Linked DNA regions of Homo sapiens. The protein of the gene in region 1 purifies or fractionates together with the protein of each later gene. This does not show direct contact. Each region holds a gene or a part of one and is shown in the gene's direction. Other genes may lie near its edges.

Region 1 (3,860 bases):
CTCCCGCCATCCTCACCCGTACGTGACTTCTCAGTTGGAGTCTCTCCAGGTCACAGCCTCCCTGCCTGCCGTGTCTGCCTCTCCACGGCACACCTGGCCTCTCCCCCTCAGCCGGGGCTCCATGGCCCTCCACATTGCCTCTCCTCCCCTTTCCTCCCTGGCTTCCCTGATCATGGTCCACAGCAGGGGCCACGTCCCATGGTGTCAGTGGATGAGGAAGCCACTTAGTGTGGTGGGATGTCCACACACCTGCACAGGACTCTGCTGAGACGGAGGCTTCATCTTCCTTTTGGTTCTTCTCTTCTTTCCCCAGATACGGTGGCGAACGAGGCCACGCTGCTCGATACTGACTACGACAATTTCCTGTTTCTCTGCCTACAGGACACCACCACCCCCATCCAGAGCATGATGTGCCAGTACCTGGGTGGGTCTCACAGCACATGAGCTCAACGTGGGTGAGAGGCAGCAGCTACGTCCGTGGCTGGGAACCCTGGGGAGCTGACAACTGGCTTCCTGTCCACCTCGGTGCCTGTGGGCTGACTTTTTTTTTCTTGGTTTTTTTTATTTGTTTGTTGTTTGCTTTGTTTTTTTGAGAAAGGGTCTCATTCTGTCACTCAGGCTGGAGTGTAGTGACGTGATCTCGGCTCACTGCAACTTCTGCCTCCCAGATTCAAGCGATTCTCGTGCCTCAGCCTCCAGAGTAGCTGGGATTACAGGCGCACGCCACCATGCCCAGCTAATTTTTGTATTTTTTGGTAGAGACGGGGTTTCACCATGTTGGCCAGGCTGGTCTCCAACTCCTGGATCAAGTGATCCACCCGCCTTGGCCTCCCAAAGGGCTGGGATTACAGGCGTGAGCCACCACGCCCGGCCAGGCTGAGTTTTTCTCCAGCGGTTCATCGAGTCCTCTGACAAAGCAAGGAGCTGATATAGGGCCAGTGGGACGGTCGCCAGTCAAGGGGCTGGGCTTGGTGGATAGATTAATACTCACTGGGCGTCCAGTCAAAACGCCCTGAAACCTATGATGCTGTCAACCAAACGAAGGCCAGGAATACCAAAATAGCCACATAGGCACAGCCCTTCCCCATGTTTCTGAGCACAGTGTTTCCTCTGGGGTCACACAGGTGTCTTCTTGATCAGCCTCAGCCATGCTTGGTGAGAGCCGGGCACTGGGAGAGCCAGGCACTGTGCTCTCCTGTGACGCTGTAGACACCATCCTAAGCTGTGCAGACCCCAGCGCTGCCCAGAGCGGAGCAGAGGGGGCCGGGCCAAGGAGTGGGAGCTGGGGTCAGGGAACCTGGAGGTGCAGTGGACAGAGCCCCGGAGACCGCCCTAGGGACCTACTCCAGACCAAACTCTGCCAGACCTCGGAGCACTGGGGCCTCCTTCTCTGCCCTCCCTCCTCAGGCAAGGCCTCTGGAGCTCCCCAGCTCTCATGGAAGCCCCAGGGGCCCAGGACTGACCCAGCCTCTTCCACAGCCAGAGTCCTGGTGGAGGACGATGAGATCATGCAGGGATTCATCAGGGCTTTCAGGCCCCTGCCCAGGCACCTATGGTACTTGCTGGACTTGAAACAGATGGAAGGTGAGCTCTGCCTAGGACACGCCCAGCCTCAGCTGGAGGAGAAGCTGCCTCTTTCTTAGCCCGAGCCCCCTGCTGGCTCTGCAGGACTCAGGTCACTCCTTTTTGGCCCCTCCCCTGTTCTCCCCTGGCCTTCTGGGGTGCAGAGCCACCCTGAGGTGGGGTCCTGCCCTCTCCCACCATCCTTTCATCCCTTCTCTAGCCCTGGGGCTGCTGTGTCCCCAGCTGTCTCTTCTCTCGCTGACACCTCCACTGTCCCATCTCCTCCCACAGAGCCGTGCCGTTTCTAGGTGAGCTCCTGCCTGGTCCTGCCTCCTGGGTAATGTATCAGCCTCGCCCACTGTCTGCGGCTGCCTCTCTGGGCCCCTGGGACAGACCCTACTGTGTCCAGTTCAGGGCTGACCCTACAGGAATGAACTGGGGTCTGGTCTTGTGATTCCAGAAAGCCAGGCTGCTGACGTCCCCATTCACGAGCCCAGCCTGTGTCTTGCAGCCATTGTATTAGTCACGGGCTTGTGCCCTATAGTCAGACCTCATGCTTTCTTTTGGGGTTAGGGGTGTTGGTTGGAAATGGTGGGGGCTATAGGAGGAGGAAGGAGGATGGTTACATGGAAGGGCATGAGAAGCTGGGGACCTGCAGGTCTCGGTCCCACGTTCTTTTTTTTTTTTCTTTTTTTAAGATGGAGTCTCGCTCTGTCACCAGGCTGGAGTGCAGTGGCACAATCTCAGCTCACTGCAACCTCGACCTCCTGGGTTCAAGCGATTCTCCTGCCTCAACCCCCCGAGTTGCTGGAACCACAGGCGTGTGCCACCATGCCCAGCTAATTTTTGTATTTTTAATAGAAACGGGGTTTCACCATGTTGGCCACGATGGTCTCAATCTCTTGACCTCATGATCCCCCCGCTTTAGCCTCCCAAAGTGCTGGGATTTCAGTGCCACATTCTTAAGGGGGTGTCCTCAAGCCCACCACATCCTTCCAGGGCTCCCCCGAAACACCCTGCTCTTCCTCCCTCTACTTAAGTGACCTGTAAACCCAACAGCTCACCTCCGCCTCCAGGAAGACCAGACTCCCACCCTTCCACACCTCCAGAGCAGTGGGACTTCCTCCTGCCCTTTCAAAGAATAACCACAGCTCAGAAGACGATGACGTGGTCATCTGTGTCGCCATCCCCTTCCTGCTGCACACCTGCACCACGGCCATGGGGAGGCTGCTCCCTGGGGGCAGAGTCTCTGGCAGAGGTTATTAATAAACCCTTGGAGCATGTCCTGTCTGGATGCGCAGCCACTGCTGGGTGTGGGATTCAGGGACGAGGGCCTGGGGTCGGGGCAGGCCCAGGCCACCGCCTGGCAGAACCGGAGCTCCTACAGACCCATGGGCAGCTTCTGGTGGAGAAAATACCTCAAGTTTCTTATCTACAAAACAAAAGGGTCCACTTTCACAAACTTGTGAAATGTCTAGAACAATAAAACCAGGACACTCATATCAGAATTGATGAGCCCAGAGGAAAACTCATAGTCTTTAATACTGAAATGGGTTAGCAAGAAATAATTAAAATCAATGAATCTGTAATGAGCTCTTGTTAGAAAAAAAAGCGTTAGAATGAGGAAAGTAAGAAAATAGAATGAAGGAAGATAAAAGCAAAAATGACAAAATCAGAGAAACATATCAAATTCATGCACCTGTGCCCCCAGGTGGGGAGGGGTGGGCATGGTAGGATTTAGCTCACCTGTCAGAAACACCCAGGAAAAAAAATTCCAGCAAGTATCAATCACCACAGATTAAGAGAAAATAGATTAAAAGAGTCATAAGGGATTATGCTATTTGACTCCAGAATATATTTTTTACAATCCAAAAGAGATGATTTCAAGGCAAATATAAGCATCCAAAACAGATCAGAGAAGACTGGAGACAGAGTAGGTAAGGACCCTTCCCAAGGCAGACAGACAGACACAGTCAGAGGTCTGTGTCCCAGCCCAGCCCCCAGCATCGAGAGCAGCCGGGCAAGCGGCCAGGGATCTCCTGCTCCTTTCGGGAACAGGTGAAACGAGGCAATGTGAAGAGTCGCAGGCATGGGGAGGGGGCAAAGCTTCCACACTCGTTTCTAATGCTGGGAAAATATCTCCATCAAAACTCCACAAAACCAGGCCCTACCAGGAGTAACTAGGACTTGTGAGGCAGTAAGGAACGTCCGCACTGTCTATATAACAAACAGGCCATTTTAACCCAGGCATGGGGGCTCACACCTGTAATCCCAGCACTTTGGGAGGCCGAGGCAGG
Region 2 (4,165 bases), on another chromosome or scaffold:
TGTAGATGGGGAAGGCCTGGAGAGATTGGTAACTTGACAGAGTCTCATGGCATCTGCAACAGGCAGAACCACATTTTAAACAAAGGTTGAGTTACTTCTAAAACCTGTGCTTTGCTAGTCTTCTGTTCTGCAACACTGGTTAAGAGCATAGACTCTAGAGCCATGCTGCCTGGGTTTGAGTCTTGATTCTGCCACTTACTAGTTGGGAGACATTGGGCAGGTTACTTAGCTACCCTCCTCCTTGGGCTGTTCATCTGTAACATAGGGATAATAATGTCCTTGTAGCATGGGTTGCTCTGAGGATTAAAGGAATCCATATATGTAAAGCACTCAGTGTCTGGTGCATAGAAAACACTAAATGCCAGCCATTATTATTAATTTATATATCAACTCATTGTTTTTCTTTGGATGATAGAAACTTAATCTCAGAAGTTTGAGGTTTTTCTAACTACCCACCCTTACCCCAACCCCTGCCAAGGGTTGCGTCTGTATTCCCAAGGGGCTTAGACTGTTACCTGGTATATAGTAGCCTCAAGTAAATGCTGGTGATGATAATAGGGCAGTGCCAAGACATTGGGGGTGTGGGAAGGCAGGGTTAGGGGATGGCATCTGCGCCTCATCAGCATCGATCCTCCATGGTGTCGTATCCTGAAAGTGGGAAAGGCGCTGTCCAGATAGACGCTTATCTCGTAGACAGAACAAGAACGGGGAGGCAACCATTATTTCACATACAGCAAGTTACTGTTATTTTAATGCCCTAACAATGAATCTATATTTAATTAACTTAAAAGATAGGGGAGGTGAGAGTATTATTCACTAAGTTCTTGGTCAAGGCACATTAAATCAAAGCGGTTAGCACTTAGATCTCTTCCAGGGATAAATTATCTCAGACAAGCTTCAAGGTATGCCATGCTTTGGAATGAATTGTCACTTTCCAACCACCACCACTCAACCTGTGATCTGACCACAGTGTCTTCCTCCTGTCTCCCTTCCCTCTGGGTGCCTGGGAAGGCTGGGCTTCTGCACTGTTCTGCCACTGACTTAAGCTTTGTCGTGACTATACCTTCCACTTCTCTTCTAGCTTAAGAGTTGGACAGTGGAGGACCTTCAGAAGAGGCTCTTGGCCCTGGACCCCATGATGGAGCAGGAGATTGAAGAGATCCGGCAGAAGTACCAGTCCAAGCGGCAGCCCATCCTGGATGCCATAGAGGCTAAGAAGAGACGGCAACAAAACTTCTGAGCAAGGCCAGGCTGTGAGGGCCCCAGCTCCACCCAGGCTTTGGGTGAATTCTGGATGGCTTGCCTCATGTTTGTTAGCCAGCACTTCTGCTCTGTCGTCTCTCCACAGCACCTTTGTGAACTCAGGAATGTGCGCCAGTGGGAAGGGCTCTCTTGACAGTCAGCGTGCCATCTTGATGTGTGTATGTACATTGGTCAGGTATATTATCTCAAAGGATTTATATTGGCGCTTTTAACTCAGAGTTTTAAACCCCAGGAACAGAGACTCCTAGTTGAGTGATAGCTGGGAAAGTTTTACATTGTCTGTTTTTCTTCTCCCAATAGCTTTCAATTGTTCTTTCTGGAAGACTTTTAAAAAAATATAAATATGCATATATATATATAAATTATAAATAGATTCCCCACGCAGTGTGGTGGCATCTCTGTACAGGTACAGTTTTAAACGGTTTGCCTCTTTTCTGTAAGATTATGGTACTGTGGAACATGAGGGCAGAGGACACCGGGAGGCTGTTAGGGGGTCACTGAATCCCAGGAGCCAACCTCCCCCTTTGCAGGGCTGCATTTAAAAATTAGGTTTGGGACAGTTCTTGTACCGTGGTTTCAGCCTTGTGTGGTCATCACTGGCTTCTGGAGCTATTGGTGATGTCCAAGGGAAAGCTTTGAGAGTTTATGTTTACTCTTTGAGTCCCAGGAGAAGCCTGGCACCCTCTTTGCAAATTGGCCTTTGCTCTTTCAATGCCTTTCATCCATCTCCACTCTCTCAACTGCCTAAAGTCACAGCACAGATACTGCCCAGTGCCTTAAGAGGAGACATGATCTCTACCAGGGACTCTCAGCAAACACGGGACTGTGTTCAGTCCACAAAGGAAAAGCGTTTTTGAAGCTCTCATTGTTCATGTAAAAATCATACACGTGGCATGTTGCTCCACATTCCTTACACACAGGGGTAGAGGGGATTGCTTTTGTGACCCACGTTCAAATATGTGACTGTTTTCTTTTCTCTTTTACTGCTAAGCAGCCTGGAAAGGATAAATGAATATTAGACTAAGATTTGTTTTCCAGGAGGCTCAATCTGAACACACAGAATGTCAGAGCTGGAAGGGACTATAGAGATCATCTGATCTGATCCTCTTGTACGGATGATCGCAAAACTGAGGTGTAGAGAGGGGAATGGCCAAAATCACAAAGCAAGTTAGCGTTAAGAGCTGAGACTAGAATTCAGGGTCCTCACTCCCAGGCCACCGAACCATGCAGCCCCTTCTTTGGGGGAAGAGACCTGTGTCAGTCTTGGTTAATTGTTCCAGGGAACCTTGCTAACAGAAACTTGCTCTTGCCTTGGCTCTTCAGTAGATGACCTGGCTGTAAAGAGATTCCCTGGACGAGCCAGATCATTCAGTTTCAGCGAGTCCTTGAGCTCCACAACATCTACCAGATATAGCAGACAAGCACCCATGGAGGCAGGTTTCGGGCCTGAAGCAGATCAGAGGGCTTTGCAAAAGACAGCATAGAGCCATCTTCCTGCAACTTTACCTCTTTCCCTCAGATGGGGAGCCATGACTGGGTTGCACCTCAGGATACTGTAATTTGACTCCATAATTGCTTTTGCTCCTGAAACCTGGGAATCAATGGAAAGGCAGGGAATGTGCCTCTTCTGTGGCCAGATTCTGTTATTTGCAATTAAAGCAAGTTTTTAAAAAATGCAAGAGGCAGTTGTTAGTCTTCAGGGCTTGGCAACTGAAATAGCTATGTGGCGGATACGGAAAACAGAGGACAATTTGAGGATCTTGCTGGAATAATAAATGACAGCTACCATTTGTTGAGCACCTATTATATATCAGGCACTGAGCTGGGTAGGCTCTAAACTTCACAATAACCCTGTGACTTAACTACTTTATCTCCATTTTGTAGTTGAAGAAATAAGTTCAGAGAGAAAGATTCCTTCCCAAGGTCATGCAGCTAGTAAATGATAGAATCAGGATTCATAGCATCACTATAGGGGGTCAATATTTACACAAAAAAGGAAAGTCACAAGCCTGTTTAAAATGAAGTGACCACCTTTTCTTGCATAGACTAAATAACTCGAACTGGCATTTTTAGGTTGGAAAGACAGCTGAATTAGTAGTTAAGTCTGATAGCCAAGTAAGTTTTAAAAACCAAAGCATCCAGGATGCACACCCCTGCACCATTTGCTGTGCGAATTAATAGTTCTGTCTCTCTCTCTCTTTCTTTTTTCTTTTTATTCTTTGAGATGGATTTTCGCTCTTGTCGCCCAGGCTGGAGTACAATGGCACGATCTTGGCTCACTGCAACCTCCGCCTCCCGGGTTCAAGCGATTCTTCTGCTGGGATTACAGCATATGCCACCATGCCCAGATTATTTTTTTGTATTTGTAGTAGAGACGGGGTTTCACCATGTCAGTCAGGCTGGTCTTGAACTCCTGACCTCAGGTGATCCACCCGCCTCAGCCTCCCACACTGCTGGGATTACAGGCATGAGCCACCGCTCCTGGCCTCTCTTTCTTTTTTAAACAAAGAACTTTGCACTTGGCCAGAGAGGAGGAGAAAGCCCATTTTCTCCCTTCCTAAGCTAGATCCAAATAAAAGAAAGTTCAGTTTTCCCCCATAACTATTCTTGGGTCATGAACTTTGATCTGGAGTTTGTTTTGTTTCAGGAATGTGTGCACCCAGCTTGCTGATCCAACAAAGTCTATTGCTTACCAGTCTAGCTTGATGAAGCCTTTTGGCCAGAAGTCAATTTGTTTTGGATCAGAGAAATTTCCTGACAAGGTATATTTGTTTTCTAGTGACAGAAAGGCAAAGGAACAAGTCCTAGTTGTTGTTGTTGTTGTTGAATACTAAATTTAAGATATGTCAGCTTGCTTTCAATGAGCCTTGGGCTTCTGTTATTGCTTGAGCATTTGGAACTC
Region 3 (4,660 bases), on another chromosome or scaffold:
GAAAGAAAGAAGCCCCTGTGGGGAAGGACTGCTGGGGCCAGAGGAAGACAAGGCTGGAAAGTGGAGGCAAGAGGCTGCTTCTCACAGGGGACGCAGGCAGGGGCCCCCGCTGGGCCTGCTCCCAGAACACCCTGGCCTCAGGCCTGGGTACTCTTTGGCCTGCATAGCTCAGGCAAAGAGACAGGAAGGAGTGGGTTTGAAGGAAGGACCCCCCCAGGCACTTGCCCGGGCTCTCAGATGAGGGGCCCCTCACGTGAGTCCCTCTCTCCCCAGCGGAAGACAGCAGCAACTCGTACTACGTGGTGGCCGTGGTGAGACGGGACAGCTCCCACGCCTTCACCTTGGATGAGCTTCGGGGCAAGCGCTCCTGCCACGCCGGTTTCGGCAGCCCTGCAGGCTGGGATGTCCCCGTGGGTGCCCTTATTCAGAGAGGCTTCATCCGGCCCAAGGACTGTGACGTCCTCACAGGTACCCCCCCCTTTTTAGGAACGCAGACTGGGGAAGCCTTCTCTGGGGTTAGCTAGGGACCCGCAGCCTGTTGGGGAGAGGACCTTGTTGGAAGGTGGCCAGGCTTCTGCATATGTGCCCAGGTATCTCCATAAGCTGGGGACAGAAGGACCCACCATATGCTATACATGAAGCCCCTCCAGTGTGTTAGATCACACAATATTCATGGAAACTGGCAAGACCCTTGGGCTGACAGGCCACACACCTCTGTCCTGGCTGTTAACTCAGAAAACATACAAGCACTTTTTTTTCTAACCACTGACACAAGCACACAGAGGGCACTAGGGTTGGCAGCTCCCACTCCCAGACAGCTGGACACCTGCTCTGATTGGAACAAAATAGTGAGGTAGTGAGATCCCTGTCCCTGAGGGAGTTCAAGTGAAGGCTGGGTGATGTTTGGTGATGGAGATGCTGTATCTAGACAACCTCTGCATTCCCCGCACTGAGATCCTCCAGGAGACACTCCACTCAGAGCTGAGGGGAGCGGAGCAGACAGGTGGCCTTGCAGTGTAGGATCCGGGGGGTGGGCAGACCTGTGGGGGAGCGGCCCGCCCAGCTCCCTCCCACACTTTCCACTGCTGGCCCCTCATCATTGCCCTTCCCTCCACCCCAGCAGTGAGCGAGTTCTTCAATGCCAGCTGCGTGCCCGTGAACAACCCCAAGAACTACCCCTCCTCGCTGTGTGCACTGTGCGTGGGGGACGAGCAGGGCCGCAACAAGTGTGTGGGCAACAGCCAGGAGCGGTATTACGGCTACCGCGGCGCCTTCAGGTACCCGGGTGGCCTGGCAGTCTGGGGCTGTGTGCAGAGGCTGGGACCCTCCTGCCGACGCCTGCCCTGCCCTCTGTGTGGCAGGTGCCTGGTGGAGAATGCGGGTGACGTTGCCTTCGTCAGGCACACAACCGTCTTTGACAACACAAACGGTAGGTGGGGGCAAGAGCAGGGCCAAAGGTAGGTCGGGGGGACTGTTCCCCATCTTCAGCACCATCCAGACACCATGCTGGGCTGGGGCCAAGCAGCAGCTCAGAGAGGCTGAGTCTAGAAGGCTGTGCCCCCTGGGAAGCTGGGAGCCCCAAGGGTCACAGGGTAAGAACAGACCTCAGACCACACATCCAGGGGTGCTGGATACATGACGGTTTTTACTGGCCTGGAATTCAAGTCCCTAATCCACCGAAACGGTAGAAACTCAATCCCAGTCAATCTGGAAAGACCCCCTTCTGGGAGTATTGATGTAGTGCCAAGGTGTGAGGTGGGAGTGGCATGAGCCTCTCCACAGGGTCATGAGTTCAATCAGTATCTGGTCTGTGTTCCTGAGCAGGTCACTGCCTCATGCAAGGAAATCTCTCTGCAGCCCCCAAGCCACACCGAGGCAGGGCACGCCCAACATACCACACAGGGGGTTTTCTTCCTGGAGTCACCTTCCTGGGCTCCGCCTGGGACAAAGAGCTCAGGAACGCTCTGCTCCGGGACCCCAGTACATACATGGTCCTATCAGAGCACACGCTCCCCTGACTTATATCACTTCCCCTTCTTCTTGTTCTCCGTGAAGGAATCTGTGTCCGTTTTGAAGACTAGAGGCTGTTTTCCTCCAACACCAAAGGCTTGTACTGTCTGCATACCCTGCCTACACCCCAGGCTTTGAAACCCCAAATGCTGGAGGCCCAGTCTTCTCCACTCGCTCCCAACATGTCTCCTCCTATAGACTTAGCCCAGAAAGGCACAACTGTGGCCCGGTGGGGAGGGGACTGGACAATGGGAAGCAAGACGTGCAGGGAAAAAAACGAAAACCTCAGTTAGTGTTTCAAAACTTGGATCTTGCCTCCTATGGGGGTCACCAAGGCGGTAGGACCATTTGCCCCAGCAGAGCTAGGGAGGGCTCCAGGCCCTGAACCCTTCCTGTTGCCACAGCCCAGCTCCCCCACCCAGCCTCCTACCAAGAACACCTGAAACCCTCCCCCAGGGAGGGGCTGTGTGCTCCTGCACGAGCCCAGCGGGCCTGCCTGGTCCCAGATCTGTGCATGGTGTCGTCTGGGATGGGGTCAGGGGAGGCGGGCAGGTGCTGGAGAGGCCTTGGGAGGTTCACTTGCAGTGAGTCACCCGCCTCCCAGGGCCACTCCTTTCCCTTTTATCTTTAGCTCTCCTCAAGGCCCACCTGGATTTCCTGGAAATGGGAGGAGGATGGATACTAAGTGAATGCACAGAGACATGAAAATGTGATTCCTGAGGGCAGCATTTTCTCAGGCAGCCCGAGACCGCCTGCTTTAGAATCAGTGGGATGCTGGTTTAACATGCAGATTCTTGAGCCTGATCTGAGACCTCCTGAATAAGATTCTTTGCAAGCAAGGGCCCTTGAAGCTGCCTTCTGCATCCACAAGTGATGCTATACCCTGTTCCATTTGAGAACTTCAGCCCTTAGGGACAATCACCCACCACCTTCAGGGAGCCACCCCACACTCAGGCTTGAGGATGTAACACATAGATGGGGTTCTCTGCCTGGGAGTGATTAACAGCCTCAGTTTCCTCACCTGTAAAATGGGGACAAAAACACCTACCCTGCGTTACTGTTGTGGGGATCAAGCAACGCGTGTAAAGTACTTGTCACATAGTAGGTACTCCCTACTCCCTGCTAATTAATGGCAGCTCCTGCTAATGGCATGAACACAGCTGGGTTCTTTCACCCCGGTAACACAGCAGAGCACGTGGAGAATGGAGAGGGTTGGGGAGCTGGCCAGATGTTGCCACCTCCCTGTGGTGAAGGCCTTGGGGTCCCAGGATAGCAGCTTCTCTTTACACTTCTCTCCACTCCCGGAACGTCCCCACACACACTGCTTTACCCCCCTCAGGCCACAATTCCGAGCCCTGGGCTGCTGAGCTCAGGTCAGAGGACTATGAACTGCTGTGCCCCAACGGGGCCCGAGCCGAGGTGTCCCAGTTTGCAGCCTGCAACCTGGCACAGATACCACCCCACGCCGTGATGGTCCGGCCCGACACCAACATCTTCACCGTGTATGGACTGCTGGACAAGGCCCAGGTGAGCCAGGGTGGGGCTACCTCATTGAGGGGTGTGCAGCAGAGGTAAGCTGAGCCCCTGGGAGGCCTCAGTCTACCTGGAGCAGACCTCTAGAGAAATTGAGGAAGCCCGGGGGAAATTCTGTGATTTTCACTTACGCAAGGACATCCCTCCAGAAACTGTCCCCTCTGCCTCCTGCATCGTTGATTTTCCCTTCTCAGTCGGACCATTTTCACCAACATGAAACATGCTGTGACTTCTGCCATCCTTAAAGAACAAACTAACCTCTTGGTCTCACATCCATCCTCTTGCAGCTGTAATCCTGCTCCCTTTTTTTCTTTTTTTTTTGAGACGGAGTCTTACTCTGTCGCCCCAGGCTGGAGTGCAGTGGCACTATCTCGGCTCACTGCAAGCTCCGCCTCCCGGGTTCACGCCATTCTCCCACCTCAGCCTCCTGAGTAGCTGGGACTACAGGCACCCGCCACCATGCCTGGCTAATTTTTTCTATTTTTTAGTAGAGAAGGGGTTTCACCGTGTTAGCCAGGATGGTCTCGATCTCCTGACCTCGTGATCCGCCCACCTCGGCCTCCCAAAGTGCTGGGATTACAGGCATGAGCCACTGTGCCCGGCCAATCCTGCTCCCTTTCGAAGCAAAACTCCTCCAAAGAGTGGTCTGCTCTGGAGTTAACAAGTCCTCTCCTCTGGCCTCTCTTAAGGATGGAGACTGAGTTAGCAAGTCCTCTCCTCTGGCCCCTCTTAAGGATGGAGACTACCCCAGACAGGCTCCCACCAGGGCCCTGAAGCTGTTCTTGTCAAGGTCACAGTGACCCATGTTGCTAAACCCAGTGGCCATTTCTCAGTCTTCATTTTACTTGACCTCTCAGTGGCACTGGCCACAGCTCTCCCTCCTCCTGGAAACACCTTCCCCTGCAGATGCCCAGGTCCTCAGCCCTGCCTGGCTGTCCTCTCACTCTCTGGCCACTCCTCAGTCTTCTCTGCTGATTTCCTCCCCATCTCCCTGACCTGTTAGCCCTAGGATTCAGTTCTCAGCCCTCTTCCCTGTCTACAGCTTACCCTTGATCTCATCCAATCCCATGTCATCAAATACCATCTATATACAGATGGCTTCTAAATTTACATCTTC
Region 4 (3,962 bases), on another chromosome or scaffold:
CAATCACCCAGAGCAACTTCTAGTCCTGCAAGCTGCATTCGTGGTAGGTGCCCTATACAAGTATACTGTTTTTTATCTTTTATACCACATTTTTACTGTACCTTTTCTGTGTTTAGATGCACTAATGCTTACCATTGTGTTATAGTTGCCAGCAGTATTCAGTACAGTAACATGCTGTACAGGTTTGTAGCCTAGGAGCAAAGGTCTGGGTGTGTAGTAGGCTATCCTACCTAGGTTTGTGTAATATACTCTATGTTTGCACAATGACAAAATTGCCTAACCATGCATTTCTCAGGACATATCCCTGTCATTAAGCTACACATGACTGTACTTTGAAATCAGGCAGTGTGATGCCTCCGACTTCATTCTTTTCACTCAAGATTGCTTTGGCTATTCGGAGTCTTTTGTGGTTCCGTGTTAATTTTAGGATTTTTTTTTTTCTATTTCTGTGAAAAATGATGTTGGAATTTTTTTTTCTTTTTGAGACAGAGTTTCACCCTTGTCGCCCAGGCTGCAGTGCAATGGCACAGTCTCAGCTCACTGCAACTTCTGCCTCCCAGGTTCAAGTAATTCTCCTGCCTCAGCCTCCCGAGTAGCTGGGATTACAGGGGCACATCACCACGCCTGGCTAATTTTTGTATTTTTAGTAGAGACGAGGTTTCACCATGTTGGCCAGGCTGGTCTGGAGCTCCTGACCTCAGGTGATCTGCCCACCTTGGCCTCCCAAAGTGCTGGGATTACAGGTGTAAGCCACCGTGCCCGGCAGAATTTTTTTTTTTTCTTTTTTCCTGAGACAGGGTCTGGCTTTGTTACCCACGCTGTTGTGCAGTGGTGCAATCTCGGCTCACTGCAAACTCCACCTCCTGGGCTCAGCCTCCTGAGTAGCTGGGACAACAGGCTCCAGCCACAACACCTGGCTGATTTTTTGGTATTTTTTATAGAGACAGGGTTTCACCATGTTGCCCAGGCTGGTCTCGGGCTCCTGAGCTCAAGCAGTCCACCTGCCTTGGCCTCCCAAAGTGCTGGAGATTACAGGTGTGAGCCATCACACCTGGCCTGCCATTGGAATTATGATAAAGATTGCGTGGAACCTATAGATTGCTTTGGATAGTATGGACATTTTAACAATATTCTTCCAGTCCATAAACAGAGGATATCTTACCATTTATTTGTATCATTTTCAGTTTCTTTCATCAATATTTTATAGTTTTCAGAATGCTATTAAGGTTTTTTTTTTTACATTTATTAAGTTCTACAATTACAGTACATTGCTGCAAACAGTGTTCTGTGGCAGAAATATAACATGGTGGCTCACACCTGTAATCCCAGCAGTTTGGGAGGCCAAGGCGGGTGGATCACTTGAGGTTAGGAGTTGAAACCAGCCTGGCCAATAGGGCGAAACCCCATCTCTACTAAAAATACAAAAATTAGCTGGGCGAGGTGGCGCACACATGTAATGCCAGCTACTCAGGGGGCTGAGGCAGAAGAATAGCTTGAACCCAGGAGGCGGAGGTTGTGGTAAGCCGAGATTACACCACTGCACTCCAGCCTGAGTGAGACTCCATCTAAAAAAAAAAAAAAAAAAAGAAGAACCAGGAATGGCATCCTAGAGTTACTGGGGCCCTTTTCTCAACTACACAGATTGTCAAACTTGGCAATATTACAAAACAATTCTGAAGACAATAAAATTATCTCTAAACCTAAACTGTCCAGTAGAGTAGCCACTAACCCCTATAGCTATTGAGCATTTGAATGTGGTCAGGCCAAACTAAGGTGTGCTATAGCAATATACAAACTACATTTCAATGACTTTGTACAAAAAAGAATGTAAAATATCCCTATAATAAAAAAAAGACGTAAAATATCCCATTAATCATTTGTTAGTTGATTACATGTTGAAATGATATTTTGGATATGTTGGGTTAAGTAAAATGTTAAAATTTCAGCTGTATTTTTTTTTTCTTTTCCGATGTGGCTACTAGAAAATTTAAAATGACACATGGCTCACATTTTACTTCTTTTAGCCAGTGCTGCTCTAGACTGAGTTTGCATGAGGTGTAACTGTCTAGAGCTATAGTGACATGTAAGTAATATACATGCTTTGTACAAAATCTCCCTATAAACTGCTGATTTTGAAATTGAAGTCATGAAAGACAGATTGAACCGATAGAGTCCTTTGAGAGTCACCAGTTACTGGTCCACTCTCTGTATCCTTTTGATATTTGCATTTGGCAAGTATAAACCCGACCAGGATAGGGGATGGGGGGAGGAATCCACTGGTTATTTGATGCAAAAAAAGAGGGAGAAAAAGTGGGGGGGTGCACTTATAGTCCCAGCTACTTGGGAGGCTGAGGTGGGAGGATCACTTGAGCCCAGGAGTATGCGTTTAGCCTGGGCAACATATGAAACCCCATCTCTTTTTTAAAAAAGGAAAAAAATGGTGAATAAGAGCAATGGTCATTGGCTGACAAGTAACAAACTATACATAAGAGAACTGTTAACCTAGTAGAGATTTTCATTGTGATCTATTACCTACAAAGTCTTCCTGTGGTTTCTCTTTAGGGGCAAGCTCTGTGTGATTGATTGGAAGACATCAGAGAAACCAAAGCCTTTTATTCAAAGTACATTTGACAACCCACTGCAAGTTGTGGCATACATGGGTGCCATGAACCATGATACCAACTACAGCTTTCAGGTCAGGACACTGAGCCTTTACTTAAAGCTTTGCTCAATGCTTACTTAAAACTATAACTCCGGGCCGGGCGCAGTGGCTCATGCCTGTAATCCTAGCACTTTGGGAGGCCAAGGCCGGTGGATCACTTGAGGTCAGGAGTTCAAGACCAGCCTGGCCAATATGGTGAAACCCTGTCTTTACCAAAAATACAAAAACTAGCTGGGCATGGTGGCTCATGCCTGTAATCCCAGCTATTCTAGTAGCTGAGGCAGGAGAATTGCTTGAACCCGCGAGGTGGAGGTTGTAGTGAGCCAAGATTGCGCCACTACACTCCAGCCTGGGCAAGAGAGTGAGACTCCATCTCGAATCTGTCTCAAAAAAAAAAAAAAAAACTTCTCAGTGGGGGGGTAGGAGGAGAAAAATTGTAAAAAAAAAAAAAGTTAAAAAATAGAACTCCTTGAGGTTTTTCCTTTTTTAATCTCTATTTTTATCCCATTGCTTAACGTCTTCCTTGTTCCTTTCCCACTTAAAAAAGCACTTTTTGGCTGGGCACAGTGGCTCACGCACTTTGGGAGGCCGAGGCAGGCAGATTGCTTGTGCTCAGGAGTTTGAGTCCAGCCTGGGCAACATAGTGAAACCCCGTATCTACAAAAAAAATACAAAAATTAGCTGGACATGGTGGCGCACACTTGTGCCAGCTACTTGGGAGGCTGAGGTGGGAGGATTGCTTGAGCCCAGGAAGTGGAGGTTCCAGTGAGCCGAGATTGTACCACTGCACTCTAGCCTGGCCGACAGAGCAAAACCCTGTCTCAAAAATAAATAAATAGGCCAGGTGTGGTGGCCCAAGCCTATAATTCCAGCACTTTGGGAGGCCGAGTTGGGCAGATCACCTGATGTCAGGAGTTCAAGACCAGCTTGGCTGACATGGCGAAACCCTGTCTCTACTAAAAATACAAAAATTAGCTGGGCGTGGTGGTGTGTGCCTCTAGTCCCACCTACTTGGGAGGCTGAGGCAGGAGAATCGCTTGAACCCAGGAGGCGGAGGTTGCGGTGAGCCAAGGTTGTTCCACTGCACTCCAGCCTGGGCAACAGAGCAAGACTGTCTCTCTCCAAATAAATAAATAAATAAATAAATAAATAAATAGCACTTTTTGGCCAGGGGTGGTGGCTCATGCCTGTAATCCCAGCACTTTGAAGGAGGCCGAGGTGGGCAGATTGCTTGAGCCCAGGAGTTCAAGACCAGCCTGGGCAACGTGACAAAACTCCATCATTACTAAAAATAGAAAAA
Region 5 (4,660 bases), on another chromosome or scaffold:
AGAATTCGATCTAATAATGACTTTATTATTTTAGTGAAAATCCGGAGATTTAATAAAGCTAAACCAGAGCCTGATATACTTGAAGAAGAAAAAATCTATGCTTACCCCAGCAATATTACCTCGGAGACTGGATTCAGGTAAGATTTAGGTGAGAATAAAATAATTGAGTTTTTTCCCCTAGAAAGCTAGAAACCATTCTGATGCTTGGAATTTATGATTGTGTATTTGTACTTTTACATTTGTTTGATTTGTTTATTTCCTTTCAGCTGTGGTGAAATCAAGTCTAAATCAGGATGTGTAAATGTATTAAATAGGCCATATATTTGATGCAAAAAATTAACCACTTAGCCAACCTATTTAACCTCTCAAGAGCTTTTGACATCATTAACTGGTTACTCCCTCCTTGAAGCACCTTTTTTTATAGGTGTCTTTTTTTTTTTTTTTTTTTTGAGATGGAGTTTTGCTCTTGTTGCCCAGGCTGGAGTGCAGTGGCATGATCTTGGCTCACCGTAGTCTCCACCTCCCAGTTTCAAGCGATTCTCCTGCCTCAGCCTCCCAGTAGCTGGGATTACAGGCATGCACCACCACGCTTGGCTAATTTTGTATTTTTAGTAGAGATGGGGTTTCTCCATGTTGGTCAGGCTGGTCTTGAACTCCTGACCTCAGGTGATCCGCCCGCCTCAGCCTCCCAAAGTGCTGGGATCACAGGCGTGAGCCACCTCGCCCGGCCTGTTATTTTCTTTTTAAGGGATAGAGTCTCTCTGTATTGCCCAGGCTGGCCTCAAACTCCTGGGCTCAAGCAATCCTCCCATTTCAGCCTCCCAAACAGCCAGCCCGGTCTGCCCACCCTTGTTTCTATCCAGTCTCTCCCTAAGTGACTTCCATGGTAATTAAAATATCATTCATATCTGTTGGAGATCTTGGGGCTAAAGTAGATGTAAAAAACTATACATGCCCAGCTAATTTTTGTATTTTTAGTAGCGACAAGGTTTCACCATGTTGGCCAGGCTGGTCTCAAACTCCTGACCTCAAGTGATCCATCCACCTCGGCCTCCCAAAGTGCTGGGATTACAGGCATGATTACACCACTCCTGGCCATGTCTGTGGTTCTTCTCATCCTGCTTTTGGATCTATATAATCTGGGACACGAGTTATTCCTTAACATCATCTGAAGTGGATAGCAACAGACATAAGAATATAGTCAGTATATATAAAGAAAGTGTGGGCCAGGTGGGGCAGCTCACGCCTGTAATCCCAGCACTTTCGGAGGCCGAGGTGGGTAGATCACCTGAGGTCAGGAGTTCAAGACCAGCCTGGCCAACATGATGAAACCCCATCTCTACTAAAAATACAAAAACTAGCCAGGCACAGTGGCGCATACCTGTAATCCCAGCTACTTGAGAGGCTGAGGCAGGAGAATCGCTTGAACCCGGGAGACAGAGGTTGCAGTGAGCCAAGATGGCGCCACTGTACTCCAGCCTGGGCAACAGAGCGAGACTCCATCTCAAACAAAAAAAAGAAAGTGTATTACTTAGGGGCTTAAGAAATGGACTCAGTGCCATTACTGATGTACTAGTTAAAAAAAGAAAAAGAAAAAAACATGACTGGGCGCGGTGGCTCATGCCTGTAATCCTAGCACTTTTAAGAGGCTGAGGTGGGCAGATCACGAGGTCAGGAGTTTGAGTCCAGCCTGACCAATATGGTGAAACCCCATCTCTACTAAATATACAAAAATTAGCTGGGCAAAGTGATGCACACCTGTAGTCCCAGCTACTCAGGAGGCTGAGGCAGGAGAATCGCTTGAACCTGTGAGGCGGAGGTTGCAGTGAGCTAAGATTGCGCCACTGCACTCCAGCCTGGATAACAGAGCAAGACTCTGTCTCGAAACAAAACAACAACAACAAAAAACTTTATAGATAAAGGAAAGAGATACTTTTAAAAACAGTTGTTGAAATAAATATAGTTTAATGTATTGGCTTTTAGTAAGGCCAATTTTTGAATTAGTGTCATTTTTAAATTAGCTTTTATAAACTGAACTGTTGTTAGGCACAGGTGTGAAGTGACAACACAGGTGTGACAGTGTTGAATCAGGATGCACATTGCTTTTTATTATAGTGTGGAATATAAATACTTAATGAATAAAAAGAAAAAAGAACAAAAAACAAAAACAAACACTTAATGAGCAGCAAGTCCAAGGTTGTTCTTCTTGGGATCGTTATCTCTGTCCCACAGTGTAAACTGATGATATCTTGATAGTTCTAGAATCCTTTACCCTCGGTTTCTTGAAGCCTGGATTATACTGTCTATAATTCTCAATACGTACAGAACTATGAAAACGGAGGTGTCTTTAGTGAAATAGATTCTTTCCCCTAGAAAATACAACTTTTTTTTGTCACTTTTCACTTACCATGATCTGCCTTCTTATTTTGTTTACTCTTTTTCTTCATTCTAACCTAAATAGAGGAATAACTTTAGTATCAATTGTTGATTATCTCTTTGTTGACTTTTGGGCTTATTAAATTCAGAGACTGTTCTTCCTGACCTTGACCCTTTTCATATTTCATCTTGTTCCCCCTGAGCACTGAAGAGTTTACCTAATATTGCTCTCTTATGACTTAATGGAAAGCTTTTTAAAATGTATTCCCTTCACCTCATGGGGTTAACTTTGGGGCAATGAAATTCAGTTTATGCCGGACGTGGTGGCTCACGCCTGTAATCCCAGTACTTTGTGAGGCCGAGGCGGGTGCATCACCTGAGGTCAGAAGTTCAGACCAGCCTGGTCAGCATGGTGAAACCCTGTCTCTACTGAGTATACAAAAATTAGCCGGGCGTGGTGGTGCGCACCTGTAATCCCAGCTACTCAGGAGGCTGAGGCAGGAGAATCGCTTGGACCCGGGAGGCAGAGGTTGCAGTGAGCCGAGATCACGCCATTGCACTCCAGCCTGGGCAACGAGAGTGAAACTTTGTTCCAAAAAAAAAAAAATTCAGTTTATATTCCTCTTTTACTTTTAAAATTTGTATGGAATGCTTCTTTGAAAATGCATCTCAGTTTGAAAATTTGAATCAACTTCCAATGAAAGAAGGTAAATCTAGCCACACGTTTATCCCTTCACCCTCCCCAGATCCTTCCAAAAGGATAGTGAAGGATTAAAAAAGACCAACCTACCCACACTAGCAGAAAAACTGGAGGAGAAAGGGACCATCGATGGTTGAGTGATTTCTGAAAATGTGTGGGCTACAGAATACAGATGAAGGAGCGGTAGACAATACCACAGGGCAGAGAGGCTACATTTAGAGGACACGGGGAGAAATAAAGCCAAGGAGGCAGCCACTCTTTTTGTGTAGCCCCAGAGAGACTTGGAACTCAGAAATGAACAGGATGCCCAGGAGTGGAACATAGGGCAGGGAACAGGGATGTTAATTGAAAGTCTACTGTATATAGACGATGTCCAGGTCTGGGTGTGGTGGCTTAGGCCTGTATTCCCAGCACGTTGGGAGGCTGAGGCGGGTGGATCACTTGAGGTCAGGAGTTTAAGACCAGCCTGGTCAACGTGCTGAAACCCCATCTCTACTAAAAATATAAAAATTAGCTGGGTGTGGTGGTGCACGCCTGTAGTCCCAGCTACTCGGGAGGGTGAGGCAGGAGAATCGCGGGAACCCTGGAGGCGGAGGTTGCTGTGAGCCGAGATCATGCCACTGCACTCCAGCCTGGGCAATGGAGTGAGACTCTGTGTTGAAAAAAAAAAAAAAAAAGAAGATGGTCAGTCATGGTGGCTCACGCCTGTAATCCCAGCACTATAGGAGGCCAAGGAGGGTGGATCACTTGAGGTCAGCAGTTTGAGACCAGCCTGGTCAACATGGTGAAACCCCGTCTCTACTAAAAATACAAAAATTAGCCGGGCATGGTGGTACATGCCTGTAATCCTAGAGGCTGAGGCAGAAGAATAGCTTGAACCGGGGAGGCAGAGGTTGCAGTGAGCCGAGATTGCGCCATTGCACTCCAGCCTGGGCCACAGAGCAAGACTCGGTCTCTGCCGGACACGGTGGCTCACGCCTGTAATCCCAGCACTTTGGGAGGCCGAGGCGGGTGGATCATGGGGTCAGGATATCGAGACCATCCTGGCTAATATGGTGAAACCCCATCTCTACTGAAAAATACAAAAAAAAAAAAATTAGCCGGGCGTGATGATGGGCGCTTATAGTCCCAGCTACTCAGGAGGCTGAGGCAGGAGAATGGCATGAACCCATGAGGCGGAGTTTGCAGTGAGCTGAGATCGCACCACTGTGCTCCAGCCTGGGCAACAGAGCAAGTTTCCGTCTCAAAAAAAAAAAAATAGAGACTCGGTCTCAAAAAAAAAAAAGTCAGTATATACAAGAGTTGACTCTACTCAGAGCATATCCCTTCTCAGTTCCATCAAGATAACTTGAAAACCTTTATATAAAGAGTATTTTTTCAGTGAATAGCCCAGCTCAGAAAAAAAAAAAAAGAGTGGGAGGTTCCTAGGTGGTTTATACATATTAAGTGCTAAATGTTTGTTGTTGTGTTAACCTCTGAAGACCAGAGAGTTTAGGTAACTTATTAAGTTCACACAGTCTGTGGGTGACAAAGTCAGGATTAGAATTCAGATAGTCTTTTTCCGAATATACTTATAAATAATAG
Region 6 (4,660 bases), on another chromosome or scaffold:
AAGTTGCTTAATGTCTATGAGCTTGTTTCCCTACTTTTATGTTTTTTTTTTTTGAGACAAGGTATCCCTCTTGCCCAGGCGGGGGTGCAGTGGTGCAATCACTGCTCACTGTAAGCTGTAACTCCTGGGCCCAACAGGTCCTCCCACCTCAGCCTCCTGCGTGGCTGGGACCATAGGCACACAGCACCATGCCCCGCTAATTTTTGTATTTTTTAAAGAGACAAGGTTTCGCCATGTTTTTCAGCTGGTCTCGAATTCCTAAGCTCAAGCAATCCACCCACGTTGGCCTCCCAAAGTTTTGGGATTATAAGTGTGAGCCACCACACCTGTCCAATAAATATTCATTGAATTAATGAAATTCATTATTACTGATAGAGACTTCCCAGTTCAATACTTAAGCATCATTGTGTAAGTGAGTTAAATAAAGATCTGTCTTTTGATAGCTAAGAGGCTATGTCGAATTCCCTTTCAAACTACTTATGAATATGATTGCTTTCACTTAACTTTGGAGAAGGGAGATAATGGCTCATTTAGAAAACAACCAGGCCAGGTGCGGTGGCTCACGCCTGTAGTCCCAGCACTTTGGGAGGCCGAGGTGGGTGGATCGCTTGAGCTCACAAATTTGAGACCAGCCTGGGCAACATGGCAAAACCCCGTCATATATATATATTTATATATTTATATATATAAATAAAAATTAGCTGGGCATGGTGGTACATGCCGGTAGTCCCATCTACTTGAGAAGCTGAGGCTTGAGCCTTGGAGGTGGAAGGTGCAGTGAACTGAGATTGTGCCGCTGCACTCCAGCCTGGGTGATGGAAGGAGCCCCTGTCTCAAAAAAAGAAAAGATAATGACCAAGTGTTTCACTTTATGAAATTCATCATGTTACATAACTATTTCTTGTGATTTCTCACATTATTTGACTATAAGGACCAAACAGGCAAGTAAAGCAAGGATTACTTCACTAAAACTTCCCATGTGAAATATTTAGCTATCAGTCTTTTTTTTTTTTTTTTTTGGTCTCCCAGGCTGGAGTGCAGTGGCATGATCATGGCTCACTGTAGCCTTGACCTCTTGGGCTCAGGCGATTCTCCTAAAGTGCTGAGACTACAGGCGTGCACCACAATGCCTGGTTAATTTTTAAATTTTTTGTAAAGATGGAGTCTCACTATGTTGCCCAGATTGGTTTTGAACTCCTGGGCTCGAGTGATCATCCCACCTCTGTCTCCCAAAGTGCTGGGATACAGGCATGAGCCACCACGCCCGGCCAAGCTGTGAGTGTTTGTTATTATTAAAATTAATAATTATTAAAATATTTTATTATACTTTAAGTTCTGGATACATGTGCAGAATGTGCAGGTTTGTCACATATGTACACATGTGCCATAGTGGTTTGCTGCACCCATCAACTGGTCATCTAGGTTTTAAGCCCTGCATGCATTAGGTATTTGTCCTAGTGCTCTCCCTCCCCTTGCCACCTGCCCCCCGACAAGCCCTGGTGTGTGATGTTCCCCTCCCTGTGCCCATGTGTTCTCATTGTTCAACTGCCACTTATGAGTGAGAACATGCAGCGTTTGCTTTTCTGTTCCTATGTTAGTTTACTGAGAATGATGGTTTCCAGCTTCATCCATGTCCCTGCAAAGGACATGAACTCATTCTCTTTTATGGCTGCGTAAAATATTATTCTATCATATCATGAACTCCACAATGACAGGAACTATATCTTTATACCTGGAACAGTACCTTGTTATATAGTAACTAATCATATCCAGACCTTGTCTATTTTGAAAGCATTTTCATAAACTGCTAGTTTCAAGAATTCTTTTGTAAAACTTTTGAAGAAGGTTTTATTTTTAATTTTTTTTCTTTTTTACTTTTTTGTAATATAAAGAAAAGTATCAGAACTTAGCCAAGGTCACACAGCTAATGTGTTTAGTTGAAGATTCAGACCCAGGTTTGGTTATCATTTAAAGCTATTTTTCTATGGTGAAATACTGTTTTTCTTTAAAATTCAGGATTTTACTATTCAGACACTAAAATGTTTTTTAACTAGAAACTCAATGGCATATACCTGCCTTCACAGTTGTCTGTGCTTTAGTTGGTAGTGATGAACAAGAATATAGCTTATTTAAGAGTTTGAAAAGAAAATGCAGAAAAGAAAATGAAAATAAGCCCCTTCTGCCTTCTCCTTAGGAGTGTGTGCCTCTTGATGCAGGTCTCAATGCCGTGTGTTCTCTTTGCTGCTTCTCCATCAGAACTTCATTTGAAAGGTGGAACTAATGCTGAAATGGCACCACAGATCGATTATACAGTGATGGTAAGGGCTTTTGTTGTTGACAAACTAAGATGATCTCATACATGCTTCTGAGTCTCCATTCTCTAAATATATCCTGAGTGTTTTTTTGTGACTTTCTTGTTTATCTCTTCATGGTGTCTTTTCTTTCTTTCTTTCTTTTTTTTTTTGAGACAGTGCTGTTGCCAAGGCTGGAGTACAGTTGCATATCACAGCTCACTGCATACTCAACCTCCTGAGCTCAAGCAATCCTCCTGTCTTGGCCTCCTGAGTAGCTGGGACTACAGGCACACACCCAGCCAATTTTTTTAAATTTTTTGTAGAGTCGATGCCTCACTATGTTGCCTAGGCTGGTCTTGAACTCCTGAGCTCTAAGGATCCTCCCACCTCAGCCTCCCAAATGTGTCTATTGCAGTAGGGGGTGGGGAATTATGTTTACTTTAAGTTTGTTGTTATATCTTGGAATAGTGTTTATAGTGAATTAAAAAAAAAAACTCAAGTGTAGGGCCCGGTGTGGTGGCTCACACCTGTAATCCTAGCACTCTGGGAGGCTGAGGTAGGCAGATCACTTGAGCTTAGAAGTTCAAGACCAGCCTGGGCAACATGGTGAAATCCCATCTCTACAAAAAAATAATATAAATAAAAAACAAAAAACACTACACACAGAAAAATTAGCCAGGCATGGTGGTGCACACCTGTCCAAGCTACTCAGGAGGCTGAGGTGGGAGGATCACTTGAGCCTGGGAGGTTGAGTTTGCAGTGAGCTATGTTGGCACTCCATCCTGGGTGATAAAGCAAGATGCTGTCTTTAAAAAAACAAAAAACACCTCGAGTGTGATATAAATTATATCAGTTGTGATGTGTTATTTTATAAATACAAGGATTATGATTTGGAGGGAAACTCAAACTTTTTTTTTCTATTAAGCCCCTTCCATTCTAGGATCAAACATTTAAAAAATGATTTAAAAAATACTGGCATGCTCATATAACTAGTGGGAGAGAAAAGTGGTATAATCTTTTTTCTTCTAGATTTATTAAAGTGTAATTTTTTCAATTGAATCCACCCTTTTTAACATGCAGTTCTGTGATTTTTGACAGTGACATGATTCACAGTTATGAACCATCTACCACAATCAAGACATAGAATAGTTCCGTTACTCTAAAAAATTCCCTTATACGTTTTTGTAATCAGTCCTGAGCCTCAGCCCCTGGCAACTGCTGATCTGTTTTCTGTCATAGTTTTGCCTTTTGTTCAGAATGTCATATAAGGGATAATACTGTACGTAGGCTTTGAGTCTGGGTTTTTTGCTCTCCATAATACATTTGAGATTCATCCATGTTGCTTGTATCTGCAATGAAAACTTGAGTTGTGTTCTCGTATATGGATGTACCAGTTTGCATATCCATTCATCTATTGAAGGGCATTTGGGTGTTTCCAGATTTTGGCAATTATAAATTAAGTTACTGTTAACATTCATATACAAGTTTTTGTGTGATTGTACATTTTCATTTCTCTTGGGAAAATACTTGCTGGGTTGTTATAATAAGCAAATGTCTAACTTTATAATACATAGCCAGGTTATTTTAGCTTCCAAAGTGGCTACATTTTGCATTATTACCAGTACTATATGAGAGTTCCAGCTGAAGTGGGCACAGTGGTGTGTGCCTATAGTCCCAGCTATTTAATACTTGGTAGGGTGAGGTGGGAGGATCTCTTGAGCTTAAGCTGGAGTCTAGCCTGGGTAACATAGCGAGACCCCATCTCTAAAATAAAAATAAATATCAAATAGAGGGTTCCAGCTGTTCTGTATCCATCCTAGCACTTGATATTTTCAGGTTTTTATTTGTTAAGCTTTTTCTGCCTTTAAAAAAAAACACAAAACAAGGTTAATAACCTGTATACCTCCTGGATACATAGGAGACAACCCAGAGAAATAAGTAAATCTCTAGAGTAGATCTCAAAGAGTTGCCTTAGACATCAGGCTTAAACACCATCTTTCTCTGAAATATTGCCATTCTAATAGATGGTATAATCTTTTCAAAGTCAGTTCGATGGGATGTATAATAAAAATTAATCTCTCCTCACCTAATAATTTGACTTCAAGGAAACTCCTCTAATTCAATATTGCAAAGTTCAGCTAAAGATAAATGTTAAAGGTATTTGAACAGAGCATTATATACTGTAATTATCATTATATAAGATATATCATTATCTAATAATGAAAACTTGGAGAACCGTTAAGTCAATTAGGCTAGGATGCCATGGAGTCATTCAGATTTTGTTTAGGAATAATTTTATGATGTCAGGAAAATGCTTATGTTTATAATGTTAAAGCATTGTCTGTGGAATGAGATTTCAACTGTAC
Region 7 (4,660 bases), on another chromosome or scaffold:
AGGGTACAGGGTCTTCTAAGTAAAATAGGAAGCCATTAAGAGGTATGAGTAGAGGCCGGTCACGGTGGCTCACACCTATAATCCCAGCACGTTGGGAAGCCGAGGCCGGTGGATCACCTGAGGTCAGGAGTTCAAGACCAGCCTGGCCAACATGGTGAAACCCCAGCTCTGCTAAAAATACAAAAATTAGCCGAGCGTGGTGGTGGGCACCTATAATCCCAGCTACTCAGGAGTCTGAGGTAGGAGAATCGCTTGAACCCAGGGCGGGGCATGGGGGTTGCAGTGAGCCGAGTTCTTGCACTGCACAGGTGACAGAGTGAAACTCCATCTCAAAAAAAAAAAAAAAAAAAAAAGAGTTGTGAGTAGAAATAAGATGCGGCCAGGAGCAGTGGCTTGTGCCTGTAATCCCAGCACTTTGGGAGGCCGAGGTGGGAGGATTGCTTGAGCCCAGGAGTTCGAGACCAGTCTCTATAAAACAATTTAAAAATTAGCCAGGTGGCCAGGCACGGTGGCTCACGCTTGTAATCCCAGCACTTTGGGAGGCCGAGGCGGGTGGATCACAAGGTCAAGAGATCGAGACCATCCTGGCCAACATGGTGAAACCCCATCTCTACTAAAAATACAAAAAATTAGCCAGGCATGGTGGCGGGCACCTGTAATCCCAGCTGCTTGGGAGGCTGAGGCAGGAGAATGGCATGAACCTGGGAAGCGGAGCTTGCAGTGAGCTGAGATCGTGCCACTGCACTCCAGCCTGGGTGACAGAGCAAGACTCTGTCTCAAAAAAAAAAAAAATAGCCAGGTGTGGTGGTGCACACCTGTAGTGCCAGCTACTCAGGAGGCTGAGATGGGAGAATTGCTTGAGCCCAGTACGCAGAGGTTTCAGTGAGCTGTGATCATGCCAATGCACTCCAGCTTCAGCAACAGAGCAAGATCCTGTCTCAAAAAAAAAAAAAAAGAAAGAAAGAAAGACAGAAAGAAGACACAGTCTTATTATTTAATGCATTCTTTACCCAAAAAGGGACTTTAAAAGTCTAAGAGGTTTTAGAAACCTTGGAGTTTCAAAATCTGTGTTTGTCCCTTAAAGGCTCCGAGAAGTCTCTCAGTAAAGTGATTTAACTTTTTTTGTTTTTAACCCAGTGCTGGCCACATTAATCTAGTCTTTAGAACTTTTTTTTTTCTTTTTTTTTGAGACAGAGTCTCACTCTGTCACCCAGGCTGGAGTGCAGTGGTGTGATCTCAGCTCACTCCAACCTCTGCCTCCCAGATTCAAGCAATTCTCCTGCCTCAGCCTGCCGAGTAGCTGGGATTACAGGTGTGCGCCACCACGCCAGGCTAATTTTTGTATTTTTAGTAGAGACGGGGTTTCACTATGTTGGCCAGGCTGGTCTTGAACTCCTGACGTCAAGTGATCCGACCACCTCGGCCTCCCAAAATGCTGGAATTGCCAGGTGCAGTGGCTCACACCTGTAATCCCAGCACTTTGGGAGGCTGAGGGGGGTGGATCACAAGATCAAGAGATCAAGACCATCCTGGCCAACATGGTGAAACCCCATTTCTACTAAAAATACAAAAAATAGCTGGGCGTGGTGGTGGGCACCTGTAATCCCAGCTACTCGGGAGGCTGAGACAGGAGAATCGCTTGAACCCAGGAGGCGGAGTTTGCTGTGAGCCAAGATCGCGCCACTGCCCTCCACCCTGGGTGAGAGAGCGAGATTTCATCTCAAAAAAAAAAAAAAATGCTGGGATTACAGGCATGAGCCACCACACCCGGCCGTCTTTAGAACTTCTTTTCAACAGATTGATCTTAATAATAACCCATTAAACATCTATTTGGCAAGTGCTGTTCTAGACCCAAAAGAAGGCTTCTAAAATTTCAAAGGCAATAATGTTAAGTACTTGCCTATTTTACCCAGTCTGTGCCTGGGCTAGGCATTACTAATCCATCACAGCACTGAGTCCTGCTCAACACAATTCCAGTTTCAGGCAGCAATTTCTGGTGGATTAGAATTGGCATAGGAAATGAAACCTATAAGCCTCTCCCAGCCGCAAAGCAAAGAAGGTCTTGTTCTTACAGTCACCTTGGCAGAAGGCTTCAGAAGGGATTAGCCACCCTAAAGTCTTCAGGTGCACAGTTCTAGATTCACATACAGCTGTGAATGTTGGTTCTCACCTTTATTTTGTAGCTTTGGGCAAGTAACTTCCCGAGCCTCAGTTTCTTTTCTATAAAATAGAGATAATAGGGCCGGGCATGGTGGCTCACTCCTGTAATCCCAGCACTTTGGGAGGGAGAGGCAGGCAGATCACTTGAGGTCAGGAGTTGGAGACCAGCCTGGCCAACATGGTTAAACCCTGTCTTTACTAAAAATACAAAAATCAGCCGGGTGTGATTGTGTGTGCCTGCAATCCCAGCTACCTGGGAGGCTAAGACAGGAGAATTTCTTGAACCCGGGAGGTGGAGGTTGCAGTGAGCTGAGATTGTGCCGCTGCACTCCAGCCTGGGCGACAGAACGAGACTCCGTCTCAAAAAAAAAGCAAAAAATTAGCCAAGCCTGGTGGCACATGCCTGTAATCCCGGTGGCATAAGCCTGTAATCCCAGCTACACAGGAGGCTGATGCAGGAGAATCACTTGAACCTGGGAGGTGGGGTTGCAGTGAGCCGAGATGGTGCCATTGCACTCCAACCCAGGCGACAGGGTGAGACTGTGTCTCAAAAAATAATAATAAAATAAAAATAAAGATAATTAGCCGGGTGTGGTGGTGCACAGCTGTAATCCTGGCTACTCCAGAGGTTGAAGTAGGGAGGATCACCTGAGCCCAGGAGGCGGAGGTTGCAGTGAGCCGAGATTTCACCACTGCACTCCAGCCTGGGTGTGAGAGCGAGACCCTGTCTCAATAATAATAATAATAGTTTTGGTCTTAGTTTGAGATCCTTCCAAAACAGACCCTGAAACTGGGACGTGAGGACAAGTGATTTATTGGGGAGGTAATGAGACAGGGAGTCAATGCACACAGTATGAGTATGTTAGTTTCCTAGGACTGCTGTAACAAAGTATCACAAACTGGTTGGCTTAAAACAACAGAAAGTTATTGTCTCACAGTTCCAGAGGCCAGAAGTGCAAAATCAAGGTGTCAGCAGAGCCATACTCCCTCTCAAACTTGTTAGGGGAGAATCCTTCCTTCCTTCCTTCTTTCAGTTTCTGCTTGTTCCCAGCAACCCTGGACATTCTTTGGCTTGTAGATACATTCACTCAAATCTCTGCCTCCGCTGTCACCTGGCTGTCTTTCTCCGTGTGTGTCTCTGTCTTTCTCCTCTACGGACACCAGTCATACTGGACTAAGGGTCTACCCTGTTACCCTACTCATCTTAACTAATTAGATCTGCAAAGACCCTATTTCCAAAGAATGTCACCTTCTAAGATACTGGGGGTTAGGACATCAACATGTTCCCCCCCAAAGGAGGGACATGATTCAACCCGTAACAGTATGTTATCAAGCAAGTTACTATTCCTAGCAAATGGAGTTCCAGCCCTCTAGAGATCTGTGGGAGGCAGCATAAGACATGCTGCACCAGAGAGATGAGGGAGCTGGGGTATTGATCCACCAGGTCAGTCTTTTGAAGGTTGCATCTGGAGATGCTAATTTCCCAGGGCTTTCTGCCCATTCCTAAGTGGTCAGAGCCGGCTGGCCTGCGTTCAGAGAAAGTCCACAAGCAAAGTCTTTGGGTAAATGTTGGCAGTAAGAAGTCAGCAGGTCTGAATTGGAGTGGGAAGGGATGAAGGTGGTGTACTCACAGCATCTACCACAGGCAGTGTCGTTGGAGAGTGTTTTTTTGTTCATTTGTTTGTTTTTGAGACAGTCTTGCTCTTATTGCCCAGGCTGGAGTGCAGTGGTGTGATCTTGCCTCGCTGCAACCTCCGCCTCCCCGGTTCAGGCGATTCTCCTGCCTCAGCTTCCTGAGTAGCTGGGATTACAGGTGCCTGCCACCACACCGGCTAATTTTGGTATTTTTAGTAGAGATGGAGTTTCGCCATATTGGCCAGGCTGGTCTCGAACTCCTGACCTCAAGTGATCCACCCATCTCAGCCTCCCAAAGCACTGGGATTACCAGTGTGAGGACGCCAGGCCCGACCTTTTTTCTTTTTGATACTGAGTCTCACTCTTGTCGCCCAGGCTGGAGTGCATCACGGCTCACTACAGCCTTGAATTCCTGGGTTCAAGCAATCCTCCCACTTCAGCCTCTTGAGTAGCTGGGACCACAGGCATGCACCATCACATCCAGTTTTTTTTTGTTTGTTTGTTTGTTTGTGTGTTTGTTTGTTTTTGTAGAGACAGAGTCTTGCTATGTTTCCGAGGCTGGTCTCAGGCTCCTGGGCTCAAACGATCCTCTTGCCTCGGCCTCCCAAAGTGCTGGGATTACAGGCGTGAGTCACCATGCCTGGCCTTTTGTTGCTGTTGCTGTTTTTAATTTATTCTTTACCCTTCTTGCAAGCAAACAAGTTATAAACTTAGTGTCTTAGAACAACACGAATGTATATCCTTACAGTTCTGGAGGTCAGAAATCCAAAATGGGGTTCTTACTGGGCTTTATAAAATCGAGATGTTGGCAGGGCTGCGTTCCTTCTGGATGCTCCAGGAGGAAATCTGTTTCGTTGCCTTGAAA

The links.
Region 2: the proteins of PAEP (region 1) and STK4 purify together in Homo sapiens (co-immunoprecipitation; 2 studies listed by BioGRID and IntAct, with this or other methods). This does not show direct contact.
Region 3: the proteins of PAEP (region 1) and MELTF purify together in Homo sapiens (co-immunoprecipitation; 2 studies listed by BioGRID and IntAct, with this or other methods). This does not show direct contact.
Region 4: the proteins of PAEP (region 1) and MGME1 purify together in Homo sapiens (co-immunoprecipitation; 2 studies listed by BioGRID and IntAct, with this or other methods). This does not show direct contact.
Region 5: the proteins of PAEP (region 1) and TMEM192 purify together in Homo sapiens (affinity purification with mass spectrometry; one large-scale study listed by BioGRID and IntAct). This does not show direct contact.
Region 6: the proteins of PAEP (region 1) and RTCA purify together in Homo sapiens (affinity purification with mass spectrometry; one large-scale study listed by BioGRID and IntAct). This does not show direct contact.
Region 7: the proteins of PAEP (region 1) and SLC25A23 purify together in Homo sapiens (affinity purification with mass spectrometry; one large-scale study listed by BioGRID and IntAct). This does not show direct contact.

What each region holds. Positions count from the first base shown.
Region 1 is NC_000009.12:135,563,931-135,567,790, forward strand, and holds the end of PAEP (glycodelin isoform 1 precursor), read left to right. Parts: intron 1-313; coding exon 314-424; intron 425-1,407; coding exon of another isoform or gene 1,408-1,479; coding exon 1,480-1,584; intron 1,585-1,854; coding exon 1,855-1,871; exon of another isoform or gene 1,872-1,900; intron 1,901-2,603; exon of another isoform or gene 2,604-2,622; 3' UTR 2,623-3,025; downstream 3,026-3,860. UniProt on the Homo sapiens protein: Glycoprotein that regulates critical steps during fertilization and also has immunomonomodulatory effects. Four glycoforms, namely glycodelin-S, -A, -F and -C have been identified in reproductive tissues that differ in glycosylation and biological activity.
Region 2 is NC_000020.11:45,073,937-45,078,101, forward strand, and holds part of STK4 (serine/threonine-protein kinase 4), read left to right. Parts: intron 1-1,081; coding exon 1,082-1,240; 3' UTR 1,241-4,165. UniProt on the Homo sapiens protein: Stress-activated, pro-apoptotic kinase which, following caspase-cleavage, enters the nucleus and induces chromatin condensation followed by internucleosomal DNA fragmentation.
Region 3 is NC_000003.12:197,005,426-197,010,085, reverse strand, and holds part of MELTF (melanotransferrin isoform 1 preproprotein), read left to right. Parts: intron 1-273; coding exon 274-468; intron 469-1,120; coding exon 1,121-1,277; intron 1,278-1,361; coding exon 1,362-1,429; intron 1,430-3,349; coding exon 3,350-3,537; intron 3,538-4,660. UniProt on the Homo sapiens protein: Involved in iron cellular uptake. Seems to be internalized and then recycled back to the cell membrane. Binds a single atom of iron per subunit. Could also bind zinc.
Region 4 is NC_000020.11:17,985,604-17,989,565, forward strand, and holds part of MGME1 (mitochondrial genome maintenance exonuclease 1 isoform 2 precursor), read left to right. Parts: intron 1-2,562; coding exon 2,563-2,695; intron 2,696-3,962. UniProt on the Homo sapiens protein: Metal-dependent single-stranded DNA (ssDNA) exonuclease involved in mitochondrial genome maintenance. Has preference for 5'-3' exonuclease activity but is also capable of endonuclease activity on linear substrates.
Region 5 is NC_000004.12:165,081,063-165,085,722, reverse strand, and holds part of TMEM192 (transmembrane protein 192), read left to right. Parts: intron 1-34; coding exon 35-137; intron 138-4,660.
Region 6 is NC_000001.11:100,268,363-100,273,022, forward strand, and holds part of RTCA (RNA 3'-terminal phosphate cyclase), read left to right. Parts: intron 1-2,194; coding exon 2,195-2,318; intron 2,319-4,660.
Region 7 is NC_000019.10:6,445,551-6,450,210, reverse strand, and holds part of SLC25A23 (mitochondrial adenyl nucleotide antiporter SLC25A23), read left to right. Parts: intron 1-4,660. UniProt on the Homo sapiens protein: Electroneutral antiporter that mediates the transport of adenine nucleotides through the inner mitochondrial membrane. Originally identified as an ATP-magnesium/inorganic phosphate antiporter, it also acts as a broad specificity adenyl nucleotide antiporter.